Regions from separate parts of the Homo sapiens genome. Here regions 1, 2 and 4 are each linked to region 3. Evidence: fine-mapped expression QTL. A gene starts in region 3. Each other region holds a variant in brackets. All regions are shown on one strand. Distances are from middle to middle. Region 1 has its middle 15 kb from the start of HSFX1. Region 2 overlaps TMEM185A (transmembrane protein 185A). Region 3 holds the start of TMEM185A (transmembrane protein 185A). Region 4 has its middle 2.8 kb from the start of MAGEA11.

What was found. PIP is the estimated chance that this variant, and not a neighbour inherited with it, causes the effect.
Region 1: its variant is fine-mapped to the expression of TMEM185A in whole blood (TOPMed, PIP 0.94).
Region 2: its variant is fine-mapped to the expression of TMEM185A in lung (TOPMed, PIP above 0.99). The same link has a PIP of 0.9 or more in uterus and whole blood.
Region 4: its variant is fine-mapped to the expression of TMEM185A in whole blood (TOPMed, PIP above 0.99).

What each region holds. Positions count from the first base shown.
Region 1 is chrX:149,757,551-149,760,236 of GRCh38, forward strand. It overlaps the pseudogene LOC100420322. Among named protein-coding and RNA genes, the nearest start is that of HSFX1, 15 kb to the right of the region's middle. The variant G/C (reference allele first, on the strand shown) is at 1,582.
Region 2 is chrX:149,602,807-149,605,492 of GRCh38, forward strand. TMEM185A (transmembrane protein 185A) reads right to left here. Exons shown (of 7, transcript NM_032508.4): 4 at 1,181-1,264. Among named protein-coding and RNA genes, the nearest start is that of HSFX2, 8.8 kb to the left of the region's middle. The variant C/G (reference allele first, on the strand shown) is at 1,151.
Region 3 is chrX:149,630,445-149,633,130 of GRCh38, forward strand. It overlaps TMEM185A (transmembrane protein 185A), which reads right to left and starts at 1,348. Exons shown (of 7, transcript NM_032508.4): 1 at 1,099-1,348. The coding sequence starts at 1,136. RefSeq lists silencers at 841-890, 901-1,310.
Region 4 is chrX:149,707,936-149,710,621 of GRCh38, forward strand. It overlaps a transcript of MAGEA11 not described here. Among named protein-coding and RNA genes, the nearest start is that of MAGEA11, 2.8 kb to the right of the region's middle. The variant G/T (reference allele first, on the strand shown) is at 1,207.

The sequences.
Region 1 (2,686 bases), 130 kb after region 3:
TGCTCCCATCTGCTCTGCCCTGTGATGTTCAGAATTGTCCCAGTCCTGTGTGATGTGTGTCCATACAGGAGGCTGCTGTGGAGGATGCTGGACCCTGAAATGCCTGTAGGAGAGGATGTGGGGTGCATGGAACGTCCTAGCTGCTGCAGCCCTGCAGTCCTTAGGAAACACAGGGTGAGCATTCTCCATATCCCTTTGCTCTGTCCAATAAGGGACATGTGGTGTTGCTGTTTCCACCAATGTCCCCTGTGGGGTCCAAGGGCCCACCCTGAGACCAGCAAGATGCAAGTTCTTGAGTACATAGCCAACGCCAATGGGAGGGATCCCACTTCTTACCCATCCCTCTGCGGACCTGAGTCTCCATCCCTCAGATTCCCAACGCCGAATGAGGAGGCACCTCAGTCTAAGATGGGGGCGGGGTGGGCCCCCTGTCCTGGGGTGCTGGGTCCCCTCAGGCCTCTCTCATCTCCCAGGAACTCATAGCATGCAGGATCACTGCCAGGCACTTGCCGGTACACCAGGTACTTTTCCTGCACCCAATCTTGGGTGAGGAGCTTCTTGGGCTCCCCAAAGAGGAAGTGCTCCCTTCCAGCATACACCCCCATAATGCTGAGGACTTCCCACATAACCTCCATGGGACGCAGTTCCCCTCCATGAAGATCACACCCAGGACTATTATCAGGAGGCCAGACTTGGGCATGCTCTGCTCATCACCCAGTATGCCATCATAAGAGAGGCCGAGGGAAACAGAGGAAGCTGGGATTTGTGAGATCCCTTTTTCTTGGCATGTGAGAGGGTACCTTCTTACCTTCAGTCTTCACCAATATTCCTCTCCTTGACTACTGGTGAGAGGTGACAGCATGCTGGCAGCCCTCACAGCCCTTGCTCACTCTCGGCGCCTCCTCTGCCTGGGCTCCCACTTTGGCAGCACTTGAGGAGCCCTTCAGCCCACTATTGCACTGTGGGAGCCCCTTCCTGGGCTGGCGGAGGCTCCCTCAGCTTGCGGGGAGGTGTGGAGGGAGAGGCGCAGGCGGGAACCGGGGCTGCGCTCGGTGCTTGCGGGCCAGCACGACTTCCGGGTGGGTGTGGGCTGGGCAGGCCCGCACTCAGAGCGGCCGGCTGGCCCCCCCTGCCCGGGGCAGTGAGGGGCTTAGCACCTGGGCCAGCAGCTGCTGTGCTCAATTTCTTGCCTGGCCTTAGCTGCCTTCCCGCGGGGCAGGGCTCGGGACCAGCAGCCCACCATGCCTGAGCCTCCCCCTCGCTCCGTGGGCTCCTGTGCTGCCCGAGCCTCCTGGACGAGCGCCACTCCCTGCTCCACGGCACCCAGTCCCATCGACCACCCAAGGGCTGAGGAATGCCGGCGCACGGCGCGGGACTGGCAGGCAGCTCCACCTGTGGCCCTGGTGCCCGATCCACTGGGTGAAGCCAGCTGGGCTCCTGAGTCTGGTGGGGACTTGGAGAACCTTTATGTCTAGCTAAGGGATTGTAAATACACCAATCGGCACTCTGTATCTAGCTCAAGGTTTGTAAACACACCAATCAGCACCCTGTGTCTAGCTCAGGGTTTGTGAATGCACCAAT[G/C]GACACTCTGTATCTAGCTGCTCTGGTGGGGACTTGGAGAACTTTTATGTCTAGCTCAGGGATTGTAAATATACCAATTGGCACTCTGTATCTAGCTCAAGGTTTGTAAACACACCAATCAGCACCCTGTGTCTAGCTCAGGTTTTGTGAATGCACCAGTTGACACTCTGTATCTAGCTACTCTGGTGGGGACTTGGAGAACCTTTGTGTCCACACTCTGTATCTAGCTAATCTAGTGGGGAGGTGGAGAACCTTTGTGTCTAGCTCAGGGATTGCAAAGGCACCAATCAGCACCCTGTCAAAACAGACCACTGGGCTCTCTGTAAAATGGACCAATTAGCAGGATGTGGGTGGGGCCAGATAAGAGAATAAAAGCAGGCTGCTCCAGCCAGCAGTGGCAACCCACTCAGGTCCCCTTTCGCACTGTGGAAGCTTTGTTCTTTTGCTCTTTGTAATAAATCTTGCTGCTGCTCATCCTTTGGGTCCACACTGCCTTTATGAGCTGTAACACTCACCGCGAACTCACCGCGAAGGTCTGCAGCTTCACTCCTAAAGCCAGCGAGACCACAAACCCACCAGGAGGAACGAACAACTCCAGACGCGCCACCTTAAGAGCTGTAACACTCACCGCGAAGGTCCGCAGCTTCACTCCTGAGCCGGCGAGACCACGAACCCCACCAGAAGGAAGAAACTCCGAACATCAGAAGGAACAAACTCTGGACACGCCGCCCTTAAGAACTGTAACACTCACCGTGAGGGTCCACGGCTTCATTCTTGAAGTGAGTGAGACCAAGAACCCACCAATTCCGGACCCACTGGCAGATCCTGGACTCCACCCTGTGCTGAGCAGGTGTCTATCCCTCTGCTGACCTGACAACCTGCCTCAGACCAAGGGCCCTACCTCTCTGAGATGTGGGAGGCACAAAGTGAAGGGGCACTACACGGACAGCCCTGCATGGCATGCCAAAGGCTGACAGATGGAGCAGATTTCAGGGTGCCTGCTCTCTCTGGGTGTCCTCCAGGTATTCAGATTTACTCATGACAATGCCTGCCCCTTTCCCTTCATCCCCTGGAGGCCCCAGGTAGGGGAGGTATGTGCCATGCT
Region 2 (2,686 bases), 28 kb before region 3:
GTTGTAGGATGAGTGACTGAATATTTTTTATTATGAATGTTTTATCAAAGACTTTGGGCAGAAGTGATTATTCCCATCTTTAAATATGGAGTATACTTAGGTTCCCTTCATTTCTTCTCTGCTCCCAATTCTTTACTATACTTTTCACTTTTTAAGGGTAGCTATATTTAATACATAAAATATATTGTATGCAAAATTATACATCAAACAACAGAGAAAATAAAACCGAACAAAAACACTAGCATGACCTTACCTCCCAGTGGCAATGGAACTCTTCTGCCTTTAGTCTCCATCTTTTTTCCATGCATTTAATAGTGGAATCTATACTGTGTTCTCTAATTTCTACCTTGCCACTTATCTTTCTATCTCTGCATCCATCTACCCATTTATTCACAGTTAATTTCAACCAAATGCCCAGTAACTGAAGTCACAGTTTAGAAGCATGACATAGATGCCACCACCAGCAAGAGTGTAAATGGGTATGGCTTTTTTTTTTTTTCTTTTGAGACAGGGTCTTGCTACATTGCACAGGTTGGTCTCGAACTCCTGAGCTCAAGTGATCAGCTCACCTCGGCCTCCCAAAGTGCTGGGACTGTAAGTGTAAGCCACTGCGCCTGGCCAGGTATGGCTTTTGGAAAAGCAAGTTGGCAGTGCAGTATACGTATATAGGAATCTCAAATAGTTCCCAACCTCTAGCTCAGTAACACTATTTCTGGACTATTTCCTAAGAAAACAACCAAAAAACAAAAGGCAAAAATTTTAATGCATAAACATATATACTGCAGTATGATTTAAAATCATTCAACACTGGCAACAATGGAAATACCATATTTTAGAAATAAGAGGATGGTCTGATACATGCACTTGAAGAATATTTTGTATCAATTAAACTTTAGAAGTCATGTTTATAAAGACCTTTTATTAACATGATAAAATGTTTATGATACAACATTAAAACAAAAAAATCAGGATACAAAATGGTGCACACAGTTATATCCAAACTGTTTGTATAAAACACAGACATAAAAACACTAACCATGTTATCTCCCCATGGTGGGATTATGGGTGACTATTAGGCTATTACTTCTGCTTGTCCGTCTTTTCCAAGCTTTGTACAGTGAATATGAATTACTTTTATAATAAAAAAGAA[C/G]TTTATTTAAGGATTTTAAAAGTTACATACAAGCCAGGGCCAGTGGATGATCTTGTCCAGTCTTAAGGCAATGAATATAAACTGGAGAATGTTGACAGAACACAGGATTTCTAACTAAAAATGAAGAGAAGAATCAGTTAAACAAAGTATAATTTGCATTTAATACTGCAGTAATTTGGTTAACACACTAAAAGACAATACACATTATAATACAGTGTAACTTGTATAATATTATATTGCACTGGAAACTCCTGATTTTCGGTACCAGAGGGGCACAGCAGTATTATGGCAAGGGGAAATGGGGCTCAGCCTGCTGCCTTGCCCCTCTGCTGCCTTGCCCTTTCTGGCCTGAGGCCTGAGCACAGATGAGAACCTTGTTTCCAGGTTCACTGGGAACACAGGCTAGCTGCAATAGACCACTAAACTTCCTTCATGTCCCTACCAACAATACTGTCTACTCGAAACCATCCTTGTGCATCCTTCTTCTCATACCTCGGTTTTGCCCTTGGACCCCACCCCTTCCTTTCAGGCTCCTTGAGGACCTTGTCACATCAAGCCATCAACTGTAGATTCCGTACTGTATCTTTAACCCCACCTATTCCATTGATCCCTCCTAGCAGCACAGAAATGACTCCTTCTCATTAAAAACAAAAGCCCCGAAACCAGATAAACCCACCCCATCCTTTGATCCAAGACCCCTCTTAGCCTCAGGTTTCTCTCTGCGAGACAGTAATGAATATGCAAGCCCCTACTATCTCATCTACCATTCCCAGCTTCCTTGTGATCTGGCCTCCACCCCCATGACCACCAGAAGACAGCTTTCATCAAAGTCACCGATAACCGGGAGGCAGCAAAAACACTTCAACTGGCATCCTACTGATACTGTGGATGACTCTTTCCTTTTTGCTCCCCTCCTCCTGGCCATCTAGATCCCACCATACAGTCTTGGAGCCCTCTGGAGTGTTCTGGTAATTCCTTCTGTCTCCTTTTCCCCCTCCTTAAATGGTGATGCTCCGCAGAGCCACAAACTCAGTCTTCTCTCCCGACTAGGAAGACAGACACACAAACACACATATTTTCACTCACCCGCTGCACCCTGGACTGGGGGAGAAGAAATTTCAACCAGACCCTTGGTCTGCATTATTACCTCCTTCATGGTTAGTTCTCACATCTGTCTCCAACTTAGCCTTCCTGCTGCATAGCAGACCCAGCTGTGCATAGGCCACTCGGCTCTCCTAAAGGCACCTCAAATGAAGCCAGTCCCAAATAGAGATCATTATCGCCTGCACTTAGAACCTTGTATCTCCTCTTTCTATAGCCTCCCATGTCACTTTCTATGGCCTCCCATGTCACTATGGCCTCCCATGTCACTTTCTATGGCCTCCCATGTCACTTTCTATGGCCTCCCATGTCACTTTCTATAGCCTCCCATGTCACTTTCTATAGCCTCCCATGTCACTTTCTATGGCCTCCCATGTCACTATGGCCTCCCATGTCACTTTCTATGGCCTCCCTTGTCACTTTCTATGGCCTCCC
Region 3 (2,686 bases):
GACCGCCAGCATCTAAAGCACCTAACATAGGTTACAGCACACAAATATTTACTGAGCACGTCTTCCCAACTGGCAAATAAGGGAAACGGATACTCCTTTCGGAGAGTAGTGCATTTAAGAGATCAGTTAGGCCAACTCCTCATTTTACAGAAGGGCCAAAGAAGGGCAGAGAATCACCCAGTTACATATGGCCTCGTCTCCAATCCAAGTCTTTGGGCTCAGTTTAGTTCCACAAACATTTTATATGTGCCTACTATGTGCCAGATACGGTGGGTGGGAGGCGCTGGGGACACTGAGATGAGCAGGAGATGGTCTCAGCTTCAGGGAGCTCACAGCCTGGGGTAAAGAACAGTTACAAAACAGTCGGGCAAGTGCAAGGACAGGCGCTTGAGTGCTTAGCCAGTGTTTTCTCCACACTGTCCACTGGGTGTTCCCCATCTGGAAAAGAAGGACAGCAATATCTACTTCCTGCAAATAAACTTGTAGTGAAGACTGATGAGAAAATGAGTATGGAAAATGATCAGGCTCACCCAGAAATGCATTATATAAGGTATTGCCATACCCCGACACTGACTCCAAGGATTCAACAGTGTTTCAGGTATCCGTTCAACAAAGAAGCAAACAAGAGAGGGATGGGCATAAACCCAAGGAAAACCCCAAGGACTGCGAGGAACTGGAGGAAACAGCTGGGGTGGGGGTAGGGGTGTTGGGTCGAGTGAGACGGCCCTGACGCGGAGAATGGAGGGCCCGCAGCGGCGCAGAAGAGGATGGAACCGAGACGAAGAAGTTGGGACACCAATGAGGGACAGCAAGCAGAAAAGAATGGGGTTCCCTTGGGGCAGGACGGGGCTCGCGGCCGGGCCCTTCCGGCCGTGGCCGGGCAGGGGCTGAAAGCACCGGGCACGGGAGGAGGAAGCGGGCGGGCGCCGAGGCCGACTGTTTTGCCTGGGGACCGCTTGCACCCGCAGGGAGGCTCGGGCAGGCGCCCGGGTCCTCGGGCTGCAGCATCTCGCCCGCCGTGCCTCCCCGGAGCCGAACACCAGCCCGCGCCCGAGCCCGCAGCGCGGACTCCCGGGGGCGCCAACGACGCCGCCTCACCTCGGGTTGAAGTCCTGGAAGAGGCCCCTCAGGTTCATGGCGGAGAACTTCACCGCGGCGTCCTCCTCCTCCTCCCCCGCACCCCGTGCTGCACAGCCTGCGCCTTACAGCGGGTTCATGGCGCCAGCGCCAGCCGCGTCCACGCTGCTGCTCCCGCTACTGCTGCCGTCCCCGCTGCCGTCGCCGTCGCCGTCGCCGCCGCCGCCGCCGCCGCCGCCGCCGCCGCCGCCGCCGCCGCCCGGAGAAACCTGAGCCACCGCCCCCTGCCCCTCCTTCCGGGCTTCCGTACGAGGGCCGCGCATGCGTCCGGAGCCCCGCCCAGAGCGCTCCTCGCTGGGAGGTCCCCATCCTTGTGTCCGCACGCGACCGGCGGAGGAGATGGCAGGGGGATGGAGGCTGGGAGTGAGCAGGGCCCCGAGGAAGGGGATGCTGACGGGCTGAAGGCCTGCAGGGAGGGAGCGCGCCGCCCGGGAGTCTGGCGGGCAGATCTTGGCAGACACCTGTCACCTTGGCCCGCGCTACCTTCTGGAGATTTTCCCCAGTGACGACTGAGCCCTGGGAGTAGTGACAATGAGTGAGACGTTGCATTTTTGGCGATGTCATCCCAGGCTTCACCTGTCACATCTGTCAACGACTCCAAAGTTTGGGTCCCAACTTCCCTTCCAATTCCCAAGCCAGCGTGTCCAGATATGCTGGCTATTCCCTACTCAAGTTACCTAGCACCAAAGTCACTTCCCGTGCCAACCGCCTTCCCCTCCTGGGTTCCCTTTTTCCCTTAGCAGCAGGCCTATTCGTACGCAGGGGGGTATTCAAGCAGGAGACGTGGAAATCATCCTCATTTTTCTAACCCAGTTCAGAGCCTCCTTGGATCCTGTCTAAACTTTGTGGTCACTTCACACCTGACCTCTGCCTCCACTCCAGGCTGCCCTACTTACAAGTACCAGGTTCATCTTCCTTGGGCAAGTCAACATCTTTGAGTCTCAGTTTTTCTCCTCCGCAGAATGGAAATGATAAAAACCTCTTTTCTAAGCGTGTTAGGAAGATTCAGTGAGATCGTGTGCATAACACACTGCCTGGTACATGCTAGGTGTACAAAGAATGCTGTTGCTATCTGGTACTCTTTCAGGTGTCAACCTCCTCAAGGATTTTGTTTGCTTTTGGAATCCAAGAGCAGGACAAGCTCATAGCAGGTGACCTAGTTTACCATCTTCACTTTGGGCAGATTTAAGTTTTCATGAGCACAACAATGCCTTAAACATTAGTCTACTATCATTATGGATAATAGTCATCCTTTGTTGCAATAGCAGAGTTTCACAAATGACAATTTTATACTGTTTAGCCCCAAGGGCAGCTTGAGAGAATCACAATTGCGATAGTCATACTTAGTCTTGATGTATCACCTTTCTTCTGAGAACGTAAAAACATATCATAAGTGGTAATTAAGCTTCCCAACACCCACTGGGAAATGGATATTATTATATGAGCTGATTTTAAGGTTGAGTAATCCAAATCAAGTTTTCATCTGCTGAAGCACCAGGACCCTGTCCCAGACTTTTTCACCCATCTTCCTTTCCCATCCTCTGGGTAA
Region 4 (2,686 bases), 77 kb after region 3:
TAGAAAGGGTATTCACTTTTTAATGAGGTTATTTGTTTTTGTTTGTTCAATTGTTTAAGCACCTTATAGATTCTGAATATTAGACCTTTGTCAGATGCGTAGTTGGGGAATATTTTCTTCCATTCTGCAGGTTGTCTGCTTACTCTGTGGATAGTTTCTTTTGCTGAGCAGAAGCTTTTGAGTTTAATTAGGTTAACTTGTCAATTTTTGTTTTAGTTGCAATAGCTTTTGAGAACATAGTCATAAATTATTTCCCGAGGGTGATATCCAGAATGGTGTTTCCTAGGTTTTCTTCTAGGATTCTTGTAGTTTGAGGTCTTACATTTCAATCTTTAATCCATGTCGAATTAATTTTTGTATATGATGAAAGGTCAGGATCCAACTATTGGGTACTATGCTCACTACTTGAGTGACGGGATCAATAATATCACAAATCTCAGCATCTCACAATATACCCATGTAACAAAGTTGCACACGTACCCCCTGAATCTAAAATGAAAGTGAAATTACAAAAATAAATAATAAAGACACAAATTCTATGAAGAAAAAGAAAGGTTATTCATAGAAGGCCTCACAGAGAAGATATTTGGAGAGAGACCCAAGGGTGTCTGGAAAGCAGTATTAGCTAGCAGTATTATAGGAGCATGTGTCTAGAAGAGAACAAAGGCGTGCAGTACCTCAGGACCCTGGAACAGAGAGTAGGAGGTAGGGGTCTAGGGAGGCTGGTCTATTGAAGCCAGACCCTTTTCTCTGAGCCATAGGCTGTCTCAGAGCCAGGTCAGCTGCACTGTACCATGAACTGGCTTATTGGATCCAGTATTCTATCCAAGGTTACTGAGTTGGTTTACATTATTCCAGCATTTGAGACGTGGGGTAGGTAGAAGTATAGTTGGAAACAGATTAGTAATGGATTGAAGATTTTTGATGCTGAATATCAAGTATATTGGGTATATTATACTATACTATTTTACATGTCTGACACTTTAATAAAGTTATTTCATCATAATATCATGCCATTAAATTTGAAATCCTAAGTGAAATGAACTATATTTTATAAAAAAAAAAAAATGGCCCGGCGCAGTGGCTCACGCCTGCAATCCCAGCACTTTGGAAGGCCGAGACAGGTGGATCACGAGGTCAGGAGTTCGAGACCCGTCTGGACAATATGGTGAAACCCCGTCTCTACTAAAAATACAAAAATTAGCC[G/T]GGTGTGGTAGCGCACACCTGAAATCCTAGCTACTCAGGAGGCTGAGGCAGGAGAATTGCTTGAACCTGGGAGGAGGAGGTTGCAGTGAGCTGAGATTGTGCCATTGCACTCCAGCCTGGGCGACTGAGCGAGACTCTGTCTCGAAAAAAAAAAAAAAAGATCAAATTGGTCCATAAAGAAACAGAAAACTTTAATCAAACATTACAAACTAAAACTGTATTCTCAGTTCAAGCCACCCACAAATGATCCAGGAAAAGAAAGTTTCAGAGGCCAGTTTTACCAAATAATTAGAACTCATTGCCATCCTAAGCAAACTCTTAAAAACCATACAAAAAGATGGGCAACTGTGGAACTCATTTTCTGAGACTAGTGTTCTTTGTTTCAAATACCAGAAGAGGACCTCACCATGAAAAGAACACTTAAACCAAAGTTACTCACATAGCAACAAATATCCTAAATAAATTAATAGCCAATTCATTAGGGCAGTGTACTAAATGGAAAAACGGGATATATCCAAAGAATGAAAATACAATTTGACATTAAAATATACCTTCAGTGTGATTCCCTATATTAACAAGATTATAGAGGCAAAACATATGATCATATTAATGGATACAGAAAAATATTTTGAAAAAATTAGTAATCATCCATGATAAAAATAACTAGAAAATTAAGAGTAGAAGGAAATTTTGTTTCATCAAATTGATAGCAAATATACTTAATTGTAAAATGTTGGACGCATTCATGTCAGGCACAGGTCATAAATGTATGCTATCATTGCTATTTTTCAAAGTTGTATTGGAATACAAAGCCACAGATATGGATACCAAAATAAATAAGAGGTATGTGTATTGGAAAGAAAGAGTGATATTTGGTAGGGTAATGCAACAGTCTATCTAGAAAATTCAAAAAAATGCACACTTGAAATAGTCAAATGAATAAGAGACGTGTGAAAAATAGCGAACAGAAGATCAATAAAGCAAAATCAAAAGATTTGCAAAACAGACAATAACTATTAAGAACAGGTCATAGAAAATACCCCATTCACAATAGCAACAATATCCAAAAATTACCTAACAAGAAGACTAACAAAAGCATGTATGATTTTTACTGAGGCAACTATACAAGTACTGATATATCCAGTTCAAAGAGCACCCAAATAAACAAGGCAGTATATGATATCATTGATAGGGAACAGAATATTGCAAAGATGGCAATTCTATTTTTTCAAAAATTGACAGACGTAATTCCTTAACCAGCCAAGATGACTGTCAAGCTCAGGCATCTGTTGGTTTTTGATTGTTTGGTTTGGTTTTGTTTTTTTGAGACAGGACCTCACTCTATTTCCAAGGCTGGAGTGCAGTGGTGTGAACACAGCTCACTGCAGCACTGACATCCTGGGCTCCAGTGATCCTCCCACCTTAGCCTCCCTACCAGCTGGGACTGCAGTCACACGCCACCACACCCAGCTAATTTTTC